Regions from separate parts of the Homo sapiens genome. Here region 1 is linked to region 2. A link means that fine-mapping ties the variant in region 2 to the expression of a gene that starts in the linked region. Tissue or cell type: blood mononuclear cells. Region 2 holds a variant in brackets; the other region holds the start of a gene. All regions are shown on one strand. Distances are between the middles of the regions.

The links. PIP is the estimated chance that this variant, and not a neighbour inherited with it, causes the effect.
Region 1: it holds the start of STON1, and the variant in region 2 is fine-mapped to the expression of STON1 in blood mononuclear cells (TOPMed, PIP 0.95).

What each region holds. Positions count from the first base shown.
Region 1 is chr2:48,527,186-48,532,715 of GRCh38, forward strand. It overlaps STON1 (stonin 1), which reads left to right and starts at 2,969. Exons shown (of 4, transcript NM_006873.4): 1 at 2,969-3,031. It overlaps STON1-GTF2A1L (STON1-GTF2A1L readthrough), which reads left to right and starts at 2,740. Exons shown (of 11, transcript NM_001198593.2): 1 at 2,740-2,803. RefSeq lists an enhancer at 2,962-3,509 and a silencer at 3,101-3,300.
Region 2 is chr2:48,481,079-48,486,078 of GRCh38, forward strand. All of the region lies in intron 13 of PPP1R21 (protein phosphatase 1 regulatory subunit 21), which reads left to right. Among named protein-coding and RNA genes, the nearest start is that of PPP1R21, 43 kb to the left of the region's middle. The variant C/T (reference allele first, on the strand shown) is at 2,322.

The DNA.
Region 1 (5,530 bases), 46 kb after region 2:
ACCATGTTGACCAGGCTGGTCTTGAACTCCTGACCTCAGGTGATCTGCCTGTCTCAGTCTCCCAAAGTGCTGGGATTACAGGCATGAGCCACAGTGCCCAGCCAAAAAGCTGTAGTTTGAATGAGTGTTATAATGTAAACAGAGATTTGCTGTTGCCAAGTTTTTAGAGAGGAATGTTCCTACGAAGCATTTAGTTCTCAGTGTGTCCCTCCCCTTGGATGTATATTAAATGATCCTGACAGCTTCAGCTGACATGAGTTTTGAGGAATTCCAAGCTAATCTATTAGGTCATATCTACAGATACTTTGGGGATCTCTTGTTAAACAGTTGGGAAGTTCTAAATATTTCCATGAAAAAACTGCCAGGAAAGAGAAATCTGCTAATAAAAAGGAGAATGACATAGTTTGAGGGTCTACTTATTGTAAAGCAAGAGAAAGAACAGTAACTGGAGTAAAATGAGCTCACAGCTGTGATGAACGGCTGTGGTGGCTTAGCTATTGAGGCCAGGCTAAGCTGTTTACCACCAGATTTTGATACAAAGGGACACTACCAGAAAGGATCCTTTGGAAATACATGGTGGAGTTGCAAGAAATAAATCTTCATTCATGAAACTGGCAACCTTTGGGGCAATGCTGAATCACACAGAGGGGGAAGGCCTGTCCTTTGCAAAAGACAAAATGGTTTTCAACCAACTGTATTAGTCTTTAGAAAGTTATGGGCATCCTTGCTTTGCAGAAGTGTCAGAGTTTCCAAAAGAGATTTCTTTCACCAGGTGGCTACCCACTAATAAAGGCCATACTGCTTCTTTCAAAGATGACAAAGTTTAAAAGGTGCATACAGAACTCTGTAAATGCAATGATGATTACTGTTTGTCAAATGTGTCGTTGCTTCCTGCATGAGTCCTGTCTCCAGTTAGCTGTGGCAGTTTCTGAGATGAGCTGGCCTCTGTGGAAGACCCACTGGTGAAAGGTGGGCTGGATACAGGACCAAAAAGGTTCAATTTGGGGGTTCAATTTGGGGACCCCAAAATGCCTGCGGTCAAAGCATGAGGACAACAAAGAGTTGCCCCTTCTCTTTTTCTTCCGTTCCTCCTCCTCCTGCTTCCTGTGTCCTTCTTGCTCCACTTCTCTCAGCTCCTTACCAGAAGCCTGACTTAGGGGTCCAGTACCTGTCTGTTTCCATGGAACAATCTCTGACAAGTTAACCAGCCAGTCAGTTGACTTCCTATTCCCTAGGCTCTCCTCTTCCCTAGGCAAGTTGCCCTTCCTCAACTCTTAACCATTACTGGAAGGTAGCTGGAGGAAATGAGAAGCTGAGGAGAAACCAGTGCCTTTTTCTGTGTTTAGGATATATTAAGCATAAGCACAATTAGTAGTTTTATCTGAGAATAAAAGTATCCTAAATAGATCCTGGCTGTGTGATTTCAGGCGCTCGAGGAGTGCCCTCCTGGAACGTCAGTTTCCTTCCTCAAAGCCCCGAGGGCAGGTTCTTAACACTGGCTGGAGGTCAAATAGGGTACTGACTATATTTCCATTTCACCAGCGAACTCCAAGGTCAAAAACAAGGCTACACCTGACAGAACATTTAAAAAAGAATTACACTGCTGTGCAAATACAAAGAAGTGTCCACTGATTTTCACCAACCCTGGGTGCACTGCCTATGAGTTAGCCCAGCTCCTCAAGGAAATTTACGATTAAAAAATAATTCATTGCCTTTCCACCTTCCAGCATAGTACTTCAAGTTGAGATGCTCACCGGGGCCTCCTAACCCCTCTCTTTGGATGCAACCCCTTTCTTCCTAGGTGGTCCATCCTACAGGACTGTTAAACCAATATTTCTTATTTGCCATTTTGAATCCTCAAGGATTCACTGAGTGCCTACTCTACACCTTCGCTTGAAAACTTTCAGAGATTTCCTGTATTCTGCTTCATGCCCAGCTCCACCTTCCCATCTAAACATTGCCCACTTACCCTAAGCCTTCCAGTCTTGCCAACCTCCAAAGCACCATGCCATGGGGCCTAAAATGCCCTCTTCTCTCCCCTCTGAGCCTGTTCAAACTCAGCTCAGTCTCTCGTCCTGGGTTTTGGTGTCTCTCCAGGGTAAAGGGGTGGGGAGGGTGCCTTCATTCTGACTGGCTCCCAGTGAGGCAGCCCCCCTTGAGGAAGAGGCTGAGATGCCAAGTGACTTGCCTGGAGTCATTTGCCAGCAGGCGATGGAATAGGGACTACGAGACACCCTGCAGCCTCTCCTGGGAGGACAACGCCCCTTCTCCCTCTCCATGCACTCTTGAGGCAGCAAAGAGGAGGCATCTGGACGCGTTTACCTCCTCCCCACCCCCACAGCTTGGCCCTCACTAAACTATCTTGTGTCCTTCCTCCTGCTATGATTGATTCGCCCAGGAAGGTGGGGCTTCATCTTTACCTTTCAAATATAATTCTTTAGTTCTCCTAATTACAAGGTGGGGGGTGGGGGGTGGGGGTGGGGTGAGGCGGGGGGTACAAAACAAAACAAAACTCCATGAAGCAACTTAGAAAGCACGACCGCAAAGGCCCTCCATCATCCCCACCCAGAGGTGAGGACAAGGTCTGGGGGTGCTGGGTGGCTTCAGACCTTCCACGGGTCCAAGCTATCTGCTTCAAGAGGGCATCGAAAGGTAACTCATAGACTTACCGCCCCCGCCCCCCGACTTTTGCAGGAGGGAGCGCTCTCCCCTCCTCTGGGAGGCTGGAGACTCGGGGACAGAAGATGCGCTGGAGGGAAGAGAACGGAGCGTCGGACACCAGAAAAACTTTGGGGGATTCGGGGTGAGAAAGAAGGCGTGAAGAGAGAAGGGAGGCTCAGCAGGGGAGGAGGGGCGGGGGCGGGGGCGGGAGCGGGAGGAGTCACTGCGCCGCGGCCGCCCCTCCCCGCCCTCCACTCGGCGGCCCCGGGTCTTCCTCCCCCTCCTCCTCCCCCTCCTCCTCCCCCTCCTCTTCCTCCGCCTCCTGGTGTGGCTGGCTGCGGCCAGAATCGGAGCCCCAACCGCGCTGCCGGTGAGTGACCAGCCCCAGGGGACAGAGACGGGAGGCCTGGGACCCCCCCTCTCCAGGGTGGGGCCTCCCGCCGTGTCTGGGAAAGTTTGCGGGCGCCCCGGGACGCGGGCATCTCCAGGGCCGCTCGGCGCCTCCCCATCTCCCCGCGCCCGCCCTGGCCGCCCCCAGGGGCGCCCTGGGGCCCGCAGAGGGATGGCCTCCCGGCAGGGACTCCTCGGCTCCCCTCTGTTCTGAGACTGCTGCTGGGACCGGGGTCCGACTCTAAAGAGAAAACTCAAACAGCAAAAAAAGGAATATCGACTCAGTTCCGAGGGCGGGGGCCGGGGCTCGTTCTCACCCGCGCGCGGCCCCTCGACCTCTCGGACCCGGGCCACCAGCTCTGCGCCCCTCACGCCTCCCTCGGGGTCTCTGTGTCTCTCTCCCGCTCCCGGACTCCCTCCTCCTTCTGACTGCTGTTATTTGGGCTGTTGTCCCTCCCCGCTCCCTGGTACCTCAGCTCGGACCTTAGCCTGTGCCTGCAGCCCGGAGTCCCCTCCTGCCCTGGAAGGCAAGGAGCCAGGCCACGGGGCCACAGCCGCGGGGGCCACCACACTGGCCCAAATATTTCCTGCAGGTATGACCATTCACTGGGTATTGGGGTTGGGTCCCTTGGACCCACAAACTGAACCTCGTGGGTACAGGGAAAAATTAAAATATATTCCTCCTTAGGATTGTACTGCTTCTGTTGGTTTGGCATCTTTTTATTTTTAACCCTTCTAACTGTGCTTTCTTCGAATAATAATGATACTTCATGTAATTAGCGTTTCTAATATCTAAAGACAGAAGAAGGAAGAAAATAAACGGAAGAGAGAGAATGCTTGCTAAAAATACTCATTTTTGACTTCAGTCCACACTCGACTGTTTTCCTGGGAGATAGAAGTTCAGTGTAGCTTGTTTTCAGACTAACCGCAAACACGATTACAGCCTCCTCCAGGCTAGAAGTTTTAATTTGCCTGACATGCAGCACACTGTTTGTTGGTATTCCCAGCCTGGCATTCCCGTCTGCATAGCTCTAGTCTCCCTCCCAACTCCCCCACCCCCACTTTCTTTCTCATAAAAGGGAGCTGTGAAAACAAGGCAATGGGAGAGGCTCAAACGAGCTGGACCACATAATAAAAACAGCCCTACTTATTTTAATCCTGAGGCTATGGACTCCCCTGGACTCTGATTGGGTGGAAGAATTGTTTAGTTCATTTGTGTGGTTTTTCTGTCAGTAGTTATTATGGTTGAATCAGTGTTTCCATGACAGTCTTGCTTCTGTGGGCACGATGGGGAGCCTGTTAATTCTCGGATGGGTCTGGACAGATCAAGTCTGGAGTCTGGAGAGATTTTTCAGGGCTTGACCTGGGCTGATATTGCAAACCTCTGCACACTCACTCAGAACCAGAGCAGCCGGGAGCAGCCTGAGCTGGGGTTTTCTTCCACATGATCTGGGAAGAAAAAGCTCTACCAAGGAGCGAACTGTGTGAGCATGGTTGCTGGGGGATGTTGAATGTTTTACGTTTTTAGGAAGAACACACTTCTCAAAACTTTAGCCATTCCTGTTTCCATACAAACAATAAATGTGGTTGTAACAAATGTAGTAGATCAGATTCTGAACAACCCCTTAAAAAACAGGTCCAAGTATTGAACCATTTGGAAATAAAGATTTTATTTTATTTGAATTCTACTGGAAATAAAAGAGTTTATGTTAAAAAGGATGTAATTCACTTCTCTCCACTGATGCAGTTTGACAGTTCCCCATTGGTATGAATCAGTTAGGTTTTATTGTGGTCTCAAAACATCATTAAGGCAGGGCACAACATCATTAAGGCAGGGCACGGGGTTCATGCCTATAATCCCAGCATTTTGGGAGGCCGGGGCGGGCAGATCACTTGAGGTCAGGAGTTCGAGACCAGCCTGGCCAACCTGATGAAACCCCGTCTCTATTAAAAATACAAAAGCTAGCTGGGCCAGGTGGCGGGAACCTGTAATTCCCAGCTACTTGGGAGGTTGAGGCGGAAGAATCGTTTGAACCTGGGAGGCGGAGGTTGCAGTGAGCCGAGATTACACCACTGCACTCCATCCTGGGCGACACAGCAAGACTCTGTCTAAATAAATAAATAAATAAATAAATAAATAAATAAATAAATAATTGATAGGCAAGTGTTGTGACTGTGACTTCCATTCAAAAAGTAAGTCCAAAAAAAAAAAAAAACAACAAAAGTAAGTCCATAAATTCTGAGCTTGTTTGGCCCTGTTGCTTAGAAAAACAATGTACTGTGCTCAGATAAAAATCTTCAGTCTCTTCCTCTTCCTGAGAATTTTTAATAGTGCATTTAATATCCTGTAAGTCAACCTTATACTGTTTACAGAAAAGTTGCCTTTCTGCCTTGTCCAGCTTTTGCACTATCTCATGAAATATTGTTAGACTGGATGGTTTGCCACGGGTACAAGAGTCTGCCCAGCAGCCCGAGGAGA
Region 2 (5,000 bases):
CCTGGGTTCAAGTGATTCTTCTGCCTCAGCCTCCCAAGTAGCTGGGATTACAGGTACACACCACCATGCCTGGCTAATTTTTGTATTTTTAGTAGAGATGGGGTTTCGCCATGTTGGCCAGGCTGGTCTTGAACTCCTGACATCAGGTGACCCACCTGCCGTGGCCTCCCAAAGTGCTGGGACTACAGGCGTGAGCCACTGGGCCTGGCCCCAATTATAAGGAACTTTGAAAGTCACTGTACTTACAGAATTAGCCTTGGTTTCAGAAATCACAACTTGGATAGGCAGTATGGGTGGCAGTTAACAATATTCAACTCCAGTCCTGCAGAATTTAGTTTGGTCTATAGAAAAATCCAAGAGATGGTGCTTTTTTCCTGTGAGGCTTTTGGTTTGAGGAGCTAAGACTTAGTCGTAGTCCTCTCTTCCAGAACTTTACTTAACGTAGAACCAGTTTGAAACCACAAGTACCTCTGTGGCTACAAGTTTTTTAGTTTTGTTTTAAAATTTTTCCTCTGCTGGCTGGGTGCAATAGCTGACGCTTATAATCCCAGCATTTTGGGAAGCTGAGTGGGAAGATCACTTGAGCCCAAGAATTTGAGACTAGCCTGGGCAACATAGGGAGACCCTGTCTCTACAAAATGAAACAATAAAATAAAAAAAAAATAAATTTTCTTATGCTAATACAGGTTGAGCATTCTTAATACGGTAATCTGAAATCCAAAATGCTTCAAAATCTTAAGCTTTTCAAGTGCCATCATGACACCATAAGTGGAAAATTCCGCACTTGCCCTCACGTGACATGATAAAGTTGCAGTCAAAACTTAGTTTCATGCACAAAATTATTAAAAGTATCGTACAAAATTACCTTCAGGCTATATGTATAAGGTATATATGAAACATAAATGAATTTCTTATTTAGACTTGGATCCTGTCCCCAAGATACCTTCTTATGTATATGCGAATATTCCAAAATCTGAAGAAATCTGAAGTCCAAAACACTGCTGGTCCTAAGCTTTTTGGATAAGGGATTCTTAATCTATTGGTTGATAGGTTGGTCTCAGTGTAAACAGAGGGATTTATAAAAATATGTATCCTACATGGAATTAAAACAGGAGTGACTCAATTATTTAACAAGTGGCATTTTGTTTTGTAAAAGAGGAGTATATGTAAAGTCACCTCCAAATGTTAAAGGAGCTGAGAAACCAAAGAAGGAGGCAGACAAATCCACTTTGTTGGTATAGGGTGATTTATTGGGGTATCTTATAGACAGAAGAATGGTCTTGGGGCAGTCATAAGACGGGAAGGTCTTAGTACTGCAACCTCCCAGACCCAGAGCTTATATCTTGAGGGAAAAGTACATGTGCTCTGGAAGGAATGTGTAAGTGGGTATAGCATCACAGCCTATGATTTTTTATAACAGTATCAAGGGTTGTTTTGAAGGAAACTTATTGTGAATACATGTTTTTATATAAAGAGTAATATATCATCTAGACATTTTGGAGGTATTCCCAGATTCAGGGTCAGCCAGAAGTTACATGGCAGATTAGCATTTAAAATAAAGACACTGTTTTTTTTTTTTTTTTTTAGGATGTCTACTTTATTCTAAAGTGACTATAGTCTGTAGTTGTAATTATGAAAATATATAGACCAACGTTTCCCAAAGTTTAGTGTGTATACACATCATCAGATGACTTTTTTTTCCCCTCAACTTTTAAGTTCAGGGGTAAATGTGCAGGATGTGCAGGTTTGTTACATAGTTAAATGTGTGCCGTAGTGATTAGCTGCACAGATCATCCCATCAACTAGATAGTAAGCCCAGCATCCATTTGCCATTCTTCCTGATGCTATCCCTCCTCCCATCCCCCACCCTCCATCAGGCTCCAGTGTGTCTTGTTCCTTGGCATGTGTCCATGTGTTCTCATCATTCAGCTTCCATTGACAAGTGAGAACATGCAGTATTTGATTTTCTGTTTCTGCGTTAGTTTGCTGAAGATAATGGCTTCTGGCTCCATCCATGTACCTGCAAAGGACATGATCTCGTTCCTTTTTATGGCTGCATAGTGTTCTATGACGTATACGTACTACATTTTCTATAAAATAAAGATACTTTTTTTTCCTTTTTTTTTTTTTTTTTTTTTTTTGAGACAAGTCTCACTCTGTCACCCAGGCTGGAGTGCAGTGCAACCTTTCCCTCCCAGGTTCAAGCGATTCTCCTGCCTCAGCCTCCTGAGTAGCTGGGACTACAGGTGTGCGTCACCATGCCGGCTAATTTTTTTGTATTTTAAATAGAGACAGGGTTTCGCCATGTTGGCCAGGCTGGT[C/T]TCGAACTCCTGACCTCAAGTGATCCGCCTGCCTCGGCCTCTCAAAGTTTTGGGATTATAGGCGTGAGCCACTGCACCTGGCCCAATGTCAAAATCCTAAAATTCACAGGAAACCATAAAAGGGGCCTGAATAGCCAAAGCAAACAGCACAAAGCATAAAGCTAGAGGCATCACGTTAACTGACTTGTACTGCTTTATAAGCTCATTTAGCAAAGTAGTGCACATAGTATTTTACCCTTCTCTACCCTGTTCCTTGTAATGCACAATGAGAAACAGAACAGAGTACACATTGTTCCAACCCAAGTGCTGGGATTACAAGCGTGAGGTACCGCGCCTGGCCAAGAGTGTCTTTATTTTAAATGCTAATCCACCATGTAACTTCTGACTAACCCTGAGTCTGGGAATGCCTCCAAAATGTCAATTTAGTGTATTACTCTTTCTTATTTTTAATTTTTTAAATTTCTTTTTTATAGAGGTGGGGTCCTTCTATATTTCCCAGGCTGGTCTCAAACTCCTGGACTCAAGTGATCCTTCTGCTTCGGTCTCCCAAAGTGCTGGGATTACATGCATGAACTACCGTGCCCAGCCTAATGTATTACTCTTTATATAGGAATACCTATTCACTGTAAGATTCCTTCAAAACAAACTTTGACGCCATAACAAAAATCATAGGCTGTGACTCCTGTAGCCACCCACACATTCCTTTCAGAACACGCATACTTTTTCCCCAAGATATAAGCCCTGCGTTTGGGGGTTTGCCATGCAGAGATCTGTTTTGCAGCCACCCAAGACCATGCTTGTGTCTGTAAGTTCCTCCTAATAAATCATCCTATACCAATAAACTGGATTTGCCTGCTTCCTTCTTTGATTTCTTGGCTCCTTCAGCATTTGGGGGTCGTGTTGCAAATACAGCCCTTTCAAGGAGCATATTCTAAGTGAGAATTGTTTGATCTTTAGTCTCAGAGGTCTGAAGTTGGTAGACTCGTGGGAAACATAAAAGGAAAAATAAATCTATGGTCTAAGTCACATGATTCTTTTGTACATTTTGGAGTTAAAATTTAATGTCAAGAAACACTCTAAATAATTAAAATCTTTGGACTAAATAAAGAATAAACTTTTTTTTTTTTTTTTTTTCTGGACTGATTCTTGCTCTGTTGCCCAGGCTGGACTGCAGTGGCATGATCTTGGCTCACTGCAACCTCCCACTCTTGGGTTTAAGCAATTCTTATGCCTCTAGCACCTGAGTAGCTGGGATTACAGGCACATGCCACTACACCCAGCAATTTTTGTATTTTTAGTAGACACGGGGTTTTGCCATGTTGGCCAGGCTGGTCTTGAACTCCTGGCCTCCAGTGATCTGCCCACGTCGGTCTCCCAAAGTGCTAGATTACAGGCATGAGCCACTGCATCCTGCCAAGAGTAAACATTTTGATTGTGAGAATGACTATAATCAAGCTACAATAGCATTGTTCTTAGTATTGTACTTTTTTCATGAGTACCTCAATTACCATCAACCAAGATTGCTTACCAACCAAATTGTATTATTATAACATTGTATATACTTCCAGTGAAATATTGAATAAAACTGTCTGTGATGTGTAGAAAGAAAATGTCTGTTAGGGATGAGCAATTCAGTATACAAAAAGCATTCAGTACTTACAGACTGTTGGTGGGAATGTAAATTAGTTCAACCCCTATGGAAAGCAGTATGGAGATTTCTCTCATTTTTAGAGTTCTGAAAATAGAATTACCATTCGACCCAGCAATACCCACTACTGGGTATTAACAATCCCACTACTATGTTCACCATTTGGGTGATGGGCTCAATGGAAGCCCAAACCCCAGTATTACACAATATGCCCGCATAACAAACCTGCACATAAACTCCCTGCCTCTAAAATAAAATGTAAAAAAAAAAACAAAAAGCATTCAGCATCCTAATTGAATTTTTATACACTTGGACATCTTATGACTATGTTGAGCATAATCATTTCTTTTCAAAAATATATTGAATGTAATAGTAATTTGCCAATTGGTTGGTTCCTTTTCTGTGACAACTGTACCATAGTAATATGTTAACAGTAGGAAAAATTGGCTAAAGGGTGTAATGAAACTCCATACCTTTTCTATAAGTCTAAAACTATCCTAAATCAAAGACGTATTTATTACAAGTGTATATAAATATAGGAATATATTAATAATTTTTAAATTCCCTAGTTTTAAAATGTTAGTGAAAATAATCTCATTCATGGACCATAGTAATTTTGAGTTAAAACATCATGATCACTTCAGGTTAAATCTCAAATACTATTTCTTTTCAAATAGTCTTATTTCCTCCATTAATTATCTATAGTCTAAAACAATCAACAAAATTTCTTGATTCTAAATTAATGAAATTGTTTGTACAGAATTGCTATAAAAATTTTCATGTTTTGTGATTGACATATATATAGTTGTATATATTAACTAATATATACAATTGTATATACTAACTAATATATACAATTGTATATACTAACTAATATATACAATTGTATATACTATATATAATTGTATTATATATAGTTTTATATATTATATTAATATATACAATTATATATAATATAATTAATACATATGTGTATATATGTATACCTCTTCTATGCTTTCCTAACCACAGGCCTTTATTGTACTATTCTT